Linked DNA regions of Homo sapiens: region 1 is linked to region 2. The links come from fine-mapping of genetic effects on gene expression. A gene starts in region 2. The other region holds a variant in brackets. All regions are shown on one strand. Distances are from middle to middle.

Region 1 (5,382 bases), 74 kb before region 2:
ATTCCAAGAGGTATAAAGTGTAATTCTGACTTTTGAAAGTCTTCAAAAAAAGTTTACCAAATACATGTGAAAATTGGAGAAAGTGGAGAATATAGGAAATAGTTTATGCAAAGTATCAAGTAGTTCATATAGATAATTGTTTCATAGGGTTTTGGAGTAATGGGGTGCTGACTTTATTGGGAAAACTATACCAGAGGTCAGACTCGTAGATCAATAATTGATGAATAGTTAGTGGAATCTTAGGGTTGGAAGAGACCTTAGAAGCTACTAGTCCAACTTCTCAGTAGTCACAGCAATTCCCTGTACTCTAACCCTGCCATTTTGGGACCTGTGCGTCACCGGTTCCTAGTGTAAGCCGCCTACCTTGCAAGGCTATACATTCCTTTGTTGCCTATTTCATTCTTATACTGACTCCAAATTTTCCTCCAGATGATTTCCTCTATAGAATCTAGTTTTCTTTTTACATAGTAATCCTTTAAATATTTGAAGTTATACTTTAATTTATTTTAGCATTTTATCCTGGAAAATTTCAAATATACAAAAGCAGAGAATCCGTGGGACCATCACCCAATAATTCCCAAAAGTGACTGTACCATTTTATACTTCCATCAGCAGTTAATGAAACTTCCATTTGACCACACCTTCCCTAACACTTGGTATTATCAGTCTTAAATTTTAGCCATTGTAGTGGGTATGCCTTTCTGGTTTTAATTGTAATTCCTGATGATTAATGATATTGAGCACTTTTTCACTGCTTATTGGCCATAGTTTTTTGTGTGTCAGTTCACTCTGACTAGCTGGAATTTAAATGTCTTGCAGCCCTGTGACAACTCTGGGAATTGTTTAGCTTACAGTTGTTCTTTTTTCCTTTAGTTATTCTTTGCCCATCCTCAAGGAATCTTACCCTACACAGGAGCTGTTTAGAATTCAGGCTGAGGCTGAAGGAGAGACCTCCTTGCATATTTCTGGAACTCTACTTGTTCCTAGTGTCCATCTTTTTTTTTTTTTTTTTTTTTTTTGAGATAGAGTCTTGCTCTGTTGCCCAGGCTAGAGTGCTGCGGTGCCATCTTGGCTCATTGCAACCTCCACCTCCCGGGTTCAAGCGATTCTCCTGCCTTAGCCTCCCAAGTAGCTGGGATTACAGGCACCCGCCACCACACCCGGCTAATTTTTGTATTTTTCAGTAGAGACAGGGTTTCATCATCTTGGCCAGGCTGGTCTCGAACTCCTGACCTCGTGATCCACCGGCCTCGGCCTTCCAAAGTGCTGGGATTACAGGTGTGAGCCACTGTGCCCAGCCCATAGTATCCATCTTTCTGGTACCTTTTCCTGCATATTTCAGATGCCTCAGTCTCCCCGAGCTTTAATCTCTGCCTCCTCTGCAAGATTGGTGTACTCTGCTTGGGTTCCCTATCCCTGCACTGAAGTCAAGAAAGTACCGCCAGGTAGAAAGCTGGGAGGTTGTAGAGCTCACCTATTTGTTTCTTTTCTCTCAGGGGTCACAATTGTGTGCTGCCTGTTGTTCTCTATATGAAAAACAGTTTTTAAATATCTTTTGTTTAGTTTGCTTGTTGCTTTCAGTGGGAGGGTGAGTCTCATACCAGTTACTGTCTATGGAGTTCTTTCTGTTATTATTGCAGTGCATTCATTGAAGAAACAGTTTTGTTTGGCTTCTAAGGTATATGATGGTCTAGATTTTGCTGACTACATCCCCCTGGTGTATTTTAACATTTTTCTCTGGTTCTTTATATTTCCTGGGAATTGATAGTTGCATCAGTAGTCAAATTCAGATTCAATTTTGTTTGTCAAGAATACTTAATAGGAGATGTTATGTACTTCCATCAGGAGGCATTTAACATCTGGGTGTCCCTCTTTTTTTAAAATTCTCTTTATATTGTTCCTCCTTCATTTAAAGGCTGGGGTATTTCTACAAAGAGAAACTTATGATCAAGTATTCTTTACACTGAGATTTGGCTTGTATAGTTAAGGCAGGGTAAATATTTGATTCTTTTTGTTTATTTAAACAGTTTTCAAAATAACGAGTTAGACAACTCATTCGTGGCATTATCAAATGATGCCCAAAGGGTTTTGTTTTTTTCTGACTCTTTCTAATAATCATTATGCTGTCATGGATTTAAAAATATTTGGTGTGTTTCTATCCAATCAAGAATAATTTTTTTTTTTTTTTTTTTTGGTTAAGATAGGGTCTCACCCTGTTTCCCAGGCTGGAGTGCAGTGGTGTGATCATGGCTCACTGCAGCCTCGACCTCTCTGGGCTCAGGTGATCCTCCTACCTCAGCCTCCTGAGTAGCTGGGACTACAGGTGTGTGCTACCATTTTTTATATTTTTTGTAGAGACGGGGTTTTGCCATGTTTCCCAGTCTGGTCTCAAAATCCTGGGCTCAAGTAATTTGCCTGCCTCAGCCTCCCTAAGTGTTGGGATTACAGACATGAGCCACCATGCCTGGCCAGTTATTCTTATTGATGATCAATTTACAATTATAATTGGAGATTTCAGTATCCCTTCTCAATAACTGATAGAATAGGAAGTCA[A/G]TAAGGATCTAGAAGTTATGAACATCATCATTAACCAACTTGACATTATTGATGTTTATGGAACATTCCACCCAAGAAGAGCAGAATACATATTATATACTTTTTAGTGCACATGAAGCGTTTACCAAAATAAACTATATTATCAGCCATAAAACAAGTCTAATGAATATAAAATGATTCAAGTAGTACAAAGTCTGTTCTCTTCACAATATAATTAAGTTAGAAATGAATAATGGAAATATCTGGAAAATCCCCAAATATTTGGAAACTAGGTGACACACTTCTTTCTGAACATCTTATGAGTTTAAAAGGAAAAGGAGAAATTAGTATTTTGAGATGAATGAAAATGAAAACAGGCCAGGCGCAGTGGCATCCCAGCACTTTGGAAGGCTGAGGCAGGAGGATCACTTGAGCCCAGAACTTCAAGACCAGCCTAAACATGGTGAAATCCTGTTTCTACAAAACACACACACACACACACACACAGCTGGGCATGGTGGCACGTGTCTGTAGTCCCAGCTACTCAGGAGGCTGAAGTGGGAAGGTTGCTTGAGCCCAGGAGGTCGAGGCTGCAGTGAGCAGAGATTGTACCACTGCACTCCAGCCTGGGTGACAGAATGAGACCTTGTCTCAAGAAAAGAAAAAAAAATAAAGACAAGAAAATGAAAACAAATATATCAAGTGTGTACAATGTCGCCAAAGAACGAGTGGGAAATGTATAGCACTACCTATATTAGAAAAAAAAGGAAAGGTCTCAAATAAGTGACTTTATTTTCCACCATAAGAGACTAGAAAAAGAAAAGCAAATTAATCCTCAAGTAAACAGGAGAAAAGAAATAATGAAGATAAGAGCATAATTCAGTGAAATAGAAAACAAAAGGAAAAGAGAGAAAATCAATGTAACCAAAACCTGGTTCTTTGAGATTAATAAAACTGATTAACCTATAGCCAAAGTGAACAGGGAAAGAAGAGAGGGAATACAGATCACCAATAGCAGCAATCAGAGAGACATCACCACATATTCTTCAGATGTTAATTATAATAAGGGAATATTATGAGCAATTTATGTCAACTAATTTGACAATTTAGATGAAGAAATTCTATCTAAGACACAGACTGCAAAAGCTCATTCAGGAAGAAACAGATAACCTTATGACTATTAAGTAAATTGGATTTACAGCTAAAAACCTTTCCACAAAGAAAACCCAGATGGCTTCACTGCTGAATTCTATTAAACTTAAGAGGAAGAAATACTACAAATTCTACACAAACTTGTCTATTAAACTGAAGAGGAGAAAATACTTCCCAGCTCATTGTATGAAGCTGATGTTACCAGGATATCAAAACAAGGCAAAGACAAAGACAAGTAAGAAAGAAAACCACAGACCAGTATCTCTCATAAACATTGGTACAAAAATTCTAAACAAAAATTTTAGCAAATCAAATCCAGCAATATATAAAAAGGAAAATACTCTATGACCAAATAGGGTTAACATCAAGAATACAAAGTTTGTTTAACATTTGAAAATCAGTGTAATTAACCATAATGACAAACTTTAAAAAGACAATCCATATGTTCAGTTCAACAAACACAGAAAACCACTTTGAAAAAAATCTAAAATTGATTACTATGTAATTTAAAAAACAATATATCAACAAACTAGGAATGGAAGGGAACTTAAATCACTTTTATGAAAGACTTAAACATCATACTTAATAGTGAATGATTGAATGTTTTTCCCCCAAGATCCAGAAGTGAAACAAGAATGTCTACTCTCATTACATCTGTTCAGTGTTATAAGGCAATAGCCAGTGCACTAAGGCAAGAAAAAGAAATAAAATGCATCCAGATTGGGAAATAAGTAAAATTGTCTTTTTTTGCAGACAACATGCATAAAATCTGGTGGGATGTAGAAAAAAATCTAGTTTAGTAAGGTTGCTAGATAAAGATTTACATCTAAAAGCAATTGTATTTATATATCGTAGCAATGAACAATTGGAAATTGAAGTTAAATTCCATGTACAATAGTATCAAAAATATGGAGTACTTATGGATAAATGTGGCAAAAAGTGTGTAAGACATATGCATTAAAAACTATAAAATATTGCTGATAGAAATTAAAGAAGACCTAAATAGATGGAGAGATAGACCTTGTTTATGAGTCAGAAGACTATATTGTTAAGCTCCCCAATTTGATCACTTGCATTAACATAGCCCCAATTAAAATCTCAGAAGGATTTTTTTTTAAATGACAAGCTGATTCTACAATTCATATGGAAAATGCAGAGGACCTAGAATAGCCCAAGCATCATGTAATTTCAAGACTTACTATAAAGCTCTAGTAAGTAAGACAGCAGATGAATAGACCATTGGAACAAAATAGAAAATCTGGAAATATACATGTATGACAGTGGACTTCTGACAAAGGTGGAAAGACAATTAAATGTACAAAGGAAAGTCTTTTCAACAAATGGTACCAAAACTATTAGATATTTATATGCAAAAAATTGATCCATACCTCACATGATGTACATAAATTAACTCAAAGCAGATAATAGACTTAAATGTAAACCCTAAAACCATAAAACTTCTAGGAAAAATTAAGAGAAAAATTTTGTTGAACTTGGATTGGCAAAGATTTCTTACAGTTGACATCAAAAGTATGATTCATAAAGGAGAAATTTGATTATTTGGATTTAATCAAAATAAAAACATCTCTTCAAAACACACTGTTATACAAACTACAGACTGGGAAAGAGTCACTGCAAAGCATCTATCTGATAAAATATTTGTATTCAGAATACATAAAGAACTCTCAAAATTCATCT
Region 2 (5,369 bases):
TTGAACCCGGGAGGCACAGGTTGCAGTGAGCCGAGATCGCGCCACTGCACTCCAGCCTGGGTGACAGAGCAAGACTCTGTCTCAGAAAAAACAAAACAAACAAAAAAAGAAAATATATTTTTGATTGTGGTAAGTACCATGGAAAAAAATGAAAAAAATGAAGCAGGATGGGGAGCAGGAGGTGTGAAACTGAGATAGAGGCAGTGGGGTTGGACAAGAGACTTTGCAATTTTAAACAGGGTGGCCAGAGACAGCCTCACTGAGGATATTTGAACAAAGACCTGAAGGAGGTGACAAAGTGACCCAAACAGATAATGGGGGGAAAAGTGCCCCAGAAAAAAAATACGAGAGCCCTAAGGCAGAACTATGTTCCAGGAAATAGCAAGGAATGTGGGAGCACTTACTCTTTTCATACTTCCGTAATTGCAACACCCAGTTACTCTAAAATCTTCCATTGGCTTCTCAGTGCTTTGAGGGCAGAAATCAAATTTTATTCATCTTTGTATCCCTAACCCTTAGTTGTTGAGTCATGAAATTGTTTAAGCTACAGTATTATTACATTATGAGAATACAGATATGCACTATCTCTCCCCCTACATCCCTCGCATAAAGCAGCTCCTGTGTGTTGTATGGCGATAAGATTGCTGCCTACCCAATTAGAAATCCCAACGATCCTAGACTCTTCCTCCTTCTACACCCTCGACATCCAGTCAGTAACTAAATCCTGTCAATTCTTGTTTACATCATTATAGTGGCCCCCAATTGGTCTATTTTGCTGCAGCCTTTCCTCCCAGATATTTCAAATGAAAAAGATAATTTGCATTCATTTCTGGATATATTAGGTAATTTTAAACTCTTGACCTCATTTTATATGTAGCCTACATGTTTACAGAATTTAAGCCAATCATTACATGTTTTCACTGAAATTTGACCCTGGCAGTTTTTATAATTTGAGGACTACTAGAATCATGAAGTTCAATGGTTAGTACTGAGGTCCAACAATGGATCTGCACATGCCTATCACCCTCACCTTCATGTTCCTAGAAATTCAAACTAAACAGCTTGCATATTCAATTTTCCTTTGTAATTTCAATTGGACATGGTATTCTTCACTTTCCATTGTGAAGTCGGCTGCCCAGTGTCAACAGCTGCTAGGTCTCACCACCTCACAAGTAAGAGATGGCTTTCTATTTCAAACTATGCAATATTAGTTAATATACAGAATGGGTATACATAGGTGCTTACTAATTGGCTACAGTATGGAAGGGTGTGTTCTCCAGTAATAAAGAAAATCTTATCATTTGTCTAATTCACTTACAGAATTACTCTCTCAGTACATCTTAAGCACTCTGTAGTAGAGACAGGATTTGGATTTTCTTTTTTAAATCCCAGATTTCAGTGGTATCAGCTTGTGACCTGAGTAATCTGTTTAACCTGAGCTTCAGTTTTCCTCATTTCGTAAAATGAGAATAATTATATTCTCACTGGGTTATTGCAAGAGCAAATGAAATCATGTGAAAGTGCAAAACAAATGCTAGTAGTTGTTACACATCGCAAAATGGCTCAGAGCACGGGTTTTTGTCAGAGCTTTTTGAAGCTACAGGCGATTCAAAGTCAGTACCTACACATTTAAATTATCTTAATAGATAAAAACAAATAACTATTGCGGGGAGACGATAAGAGTTTAGATCTTCCAAGTACCAAGCGTATATTCTTGCCAGAAATCGTTGTGTGTCGGGGGCGGATGGGGGGTGGGGGAGGCCGGGGGTATTCTACTCATACGTGGTTTCATACTCAGTGAAATCTCAAACAATAACTTGCTTTAAACAGAGAATAATTAATGGCGAGTTTGCAAACAATAGCATTTTGGCAGACAGTTCTTAAGTTCAGTAAAATGTGCAAAAACCTAAGCAAGGTTTTATGTGTATATAAATCTTGTCTTTTATTTTTTAAGACAACCCTGAAGTTTTCTGTGGAAACCAGAAAGGGCAAGAAATTGGTCTTAGGTTGCTCAAGGAAACTGGTACTCACTTGTACCCTGCGGCTATACATTATATACAGGAAAAGGAGGAGGGATCCAAGGAGGGCGTGGAGCTCCTGTGCGTGGTCCATTAATTCACATTTTGCTCTCTTCGGTTCACATCCTGCGCGGACTCCACCCAAGGCAACCGAGCGAGGGGGTGGGTGGGACTCACAGCCTACCAAATAACAGTCCCAGAAACCGAAACGAAATCGAGGTGGAATTCTGAAAACACGGCTCACCAGAAAGAGGGGTGGAGAAGGAGCGCGAGAGGAGACCCTTCTTTTGGCAGAAGAGGTATCCCTGGCCCTCGTTGCTTCCTGGGCTCCCCCCCATCCCCTCAATCGCAAACAGTTCCCTCCTTTCCTACGCATGGAAGAAGGAAGACACACACAGAGCAAGGCCACTCATCCTTGGAACGTGGGCGGAGAACACACAAGTATTCCTCAGAGAATTTCAAAAGGAAATCGAGGAAAAGCAACCTGGGAGAGGAGGAGGAAAGGAAACTGACTGCCAAGTGGGGGACCCGCGAGACGGTGGAAAGGAACTAAGCAGATAGCCTGCTGGGGCCTGCGCCCCAGGAAAGAAGGGCTACCTGTTGAATGGAACTGTCCCTGCGGAGGCGGAGAGGGAAGAAGGCGAGTCACCCCAGAGAGCGGAGCCGTTGTCCCTAGAGCAGCCTCGCTGGGGCTGGTGGCGAGGGATCTCAGCCCCAGTGCCTGCGGAGCCCCACCCTGAGAAGCCTTGGCTGCAGATACGGTGATGAGAGACACCGACAGAAACAAGGGAGAGGCGCACGACTGGAGCCGGTCTGGCCTGCTCCCGCGGTTAGTCACTCACATCTGATACTCGTCTATCGCCTCCACCAGCTGGCCCCAAGAGTCGAAGTCGGCGCCTCTCCTAAAACTGGCGCCCCAGCGCTGCAGCAGACTCCGGGTCACCTCCGACATGGCCGGTCCCCACCCCGTCCCCTCCCGCCCCTACCCCAGCAAGGCCGGGTTCTAGGGCGCCATCCTCCCCCGGCCTGGCCCCGACATTAACAGGGCCAGGAGGAACCGCTACGGCCACCACCGCCACCCGCCGAGGAGCCGCCCAAGCCCATTTGCCGCCACAGCCAAACTTTGCGGCTCCAAAGCGACCGCCCCGCCGAGACCCCGCCCCCGAGGCCCCGCCCCGGGTTAGGTTGAGGCCGCCCCACTGCGCCGAGGGCCGCCATCGCTATTGCGGCATTCTCCCTCGGCTCCGGAGGTAGGGGCAACTCTTCTCTTCCTGTCTGGGAAAAAGACCATAGCTCAAAAGGAAGGCCGAGGGAGAAGTTAGAAAGGGATGATGAACGAAGCGTTTTGAGGGGACTGCAACGCCGCGGCAATACCCGCCCCTGAGCTGCGCGCACTACCGCCTCGGTAGCTATCATGGCCGCCGGGTCACGTGACTCCGGCTTGGCGCCGTCCTGGTTTTCCGTCACCCTGGTTCTGTAGTCTCGGTTCTCCGACTCCCTCTTTTTCTCGCTTGTGGACTCCGATATATTGCCCTTCTTCCCTTAGAAGAACTGCTGAACCGACTCTGAGAAATTTGGTAAGTATGTCAGAGGATGGGTGTTTCTCAGTAATATCCCCCGCTACTTCCCCGGAGTCTCAAGCAATAGGATCACCCCCTTTTACATTAGTCTCCATAGACCCCTGGACAGTGGACCAAAAGTCTCCTTCTAGTGCCTTGAAACAAACGACAGAAAGAAAATCCATATTGGTCACCACAAATCAGTGGCATTAACAGCTAGATCCGCTGAATCCCCTTGCCCCGCATCTCCATTGGTCATTGGAGAGCTTATAATACAAGCTAAACTGGGGTTCGTTCGGCCGTTGTCTGGCCACCTCTCCCGGGTTGACAGTATCGGCTTTCCACAAAAATGCCTGTTTGGAAAGAGGGGAACTCAAGTGTTGGCGCGTGCGCACGGTCGCCGCCCGCTGCCTCGAACGGGACTGGGCACGGGAGGAAGAGGCTGGGTGGTAAACAGGAAGTGGGCGCTCAGAGCTCGGGGGCGGCGCTCAGGTAGGTTCCTCTGGGGACTCGGGGCTTCCGGGGTGGGGGTCCCTTGTTAGGAGCGGGAGTCCTCTTGTGGAAGTGTGTTAGCTTACAGCTTCGATCCGAATGTTGTATTGGTGGCTCTAAAGGCACCCTTGTCCCTGCGGGTGGGTGTGTCGTTCTTCTATCCCACCCTAGGAACTCCCGAAAACTGAAGACCGCCGGGTCGCAGAAGGGGAGAAGATGGGGCAGGGGCAGAAACCCTCTTCTTTCCTGAAGTAAAGATTCGCAAAACTTCAGACATTTTCATCCAGGAAGTAGGAGGCCGCATTAAAAGAAGTATTTGTGGAAGATTTCGCAGCCTCAAGTGCTGAGTGTGATATTATTTGTAGGCACATAGATGCTGTATTAGGCTATCGGAATTTATATGGAAGATGTGTAGAAGATGATATTTTCTGAAATAACTCGTTAAATGTTTTGAGTCCTAAATAAACCTGCTCAGTTTTTCGTTGGGTACACACTGTATTCTCTATTCATTAAGTATGTGGTGCTCCTCAAAACCAGCTTTGTCATGAATAAATAGCATAAAGGAAGCACTTAATGTAGGCATTTCATACACTGTACAGCCACCATTATTTTCTAATACTAGGAAAAGTCGATTGTCAGAATTTTTTAGTGCCTTCAAATTAAATGAACCTTATCAGAATTTTTTCTCAGTTACTTCCTGGAATCTAATTGCCATGTTTAGGTCTTCGCCTGGGCTTTCTCCTTATTATCTGCTGCACTACCTACCCAAGGACATTTAGACAAGACATGCTGCTTTTTTTTTTTTTTTTTTTTGAGACGGAGTCTCCCTCTGTCGCCCAGGCTGGAGTGCAGTGGTGCCATCTCGGCTCACTGCAAGCTCCGCCTCCTGGGTTCTCCTGCCTCAGCCTCCCAAGTAGCTGGGACTACAGGCGACCGCCACCATGCCCGGCTAATTTTTTTTTTGTACTTTTAGTAGAGTCACCGTGTTAGCCAGGATGGTCTCGATCTCCTGACCTTGTGATCTGCCCGCCTCGGCCTCCCAAAGTGCTGGGATTACAGGCGTGAGCCACCGCGCGTTTTTTTTTTTTTAAGTAGAAGGCATGGAACTTAATTTTTTTTTTAAGTTGGCATCTCACTTAGGTGGTGTTCCAAGTTTTTGTTTTTTGTTTTTTTTTTCCTTTTTCCTTTTTTGAGATAGGATCTTGCCCTGTCGCCCAGGCTGGAGTGCCATGGGGAGATCAGGGCTCACTGCAGCCTACGTCTCCTGGACTCAGGGGATCCTCCCTCCTCAGTCTTCCCA

Which allele goes with the higher level. Alleles are on the strand shown, and positions count from the first base shown. SD is a standard deviation of normalised expression in the study named.
With allele G in place of A in region 1, the expression in cerebellar hemisphere of the gene that starts at base 3,144 in region 2 is higher (small effect, 0.37 SD a copy in GTEx).

The links. PIP is the estimated chance that this variant, and not a neighbour inherited with it, causes the effect. A credible set is the group of variants that fine-mapping cannot tell apart.
Region 1: its variant is the best candidate, but not a certain one, in a credible set for the expression of AIDA in cerebellar hemisphere (GTEx, PIP 0.51).

Annotation. Positions count from the first base shown.
Region 1 is chr1:222,635,512-222,640,893 of GRCh38, forward strand. All of the region lies in intron 6 of MIA3 (MIA SH3 domain ER export factor 3), which reads left to right. Among named protein-coding and RNA genes, the nearest start is that of MIA3, 20 kb to the left of the region's middle. The variant A/G (reference allele first, on the strand shown) is at 2,554.
Region 2 is chr1:222,709,348-222,714,716 of GRCh38, forward strand. It overlaps AIDA (axin interactor, dorsalization associated), which reads right to left and starts at 3,144. Exons shown (of 10, transcript NM_022831.4): 1 at 2,861-3,144. The coding sequence starts at 2,970. It overlaps BROX (BRO1 domain and CAAX motif containing), which reads left to right and starts at 3,217. Exons shown (of 13, transcript NM_144695.4): 1 at 3,217-3,595. RefSeq lists enhancers at 2,912-3,826, 4,195-4,414 and a silencer at 3,025-3,244.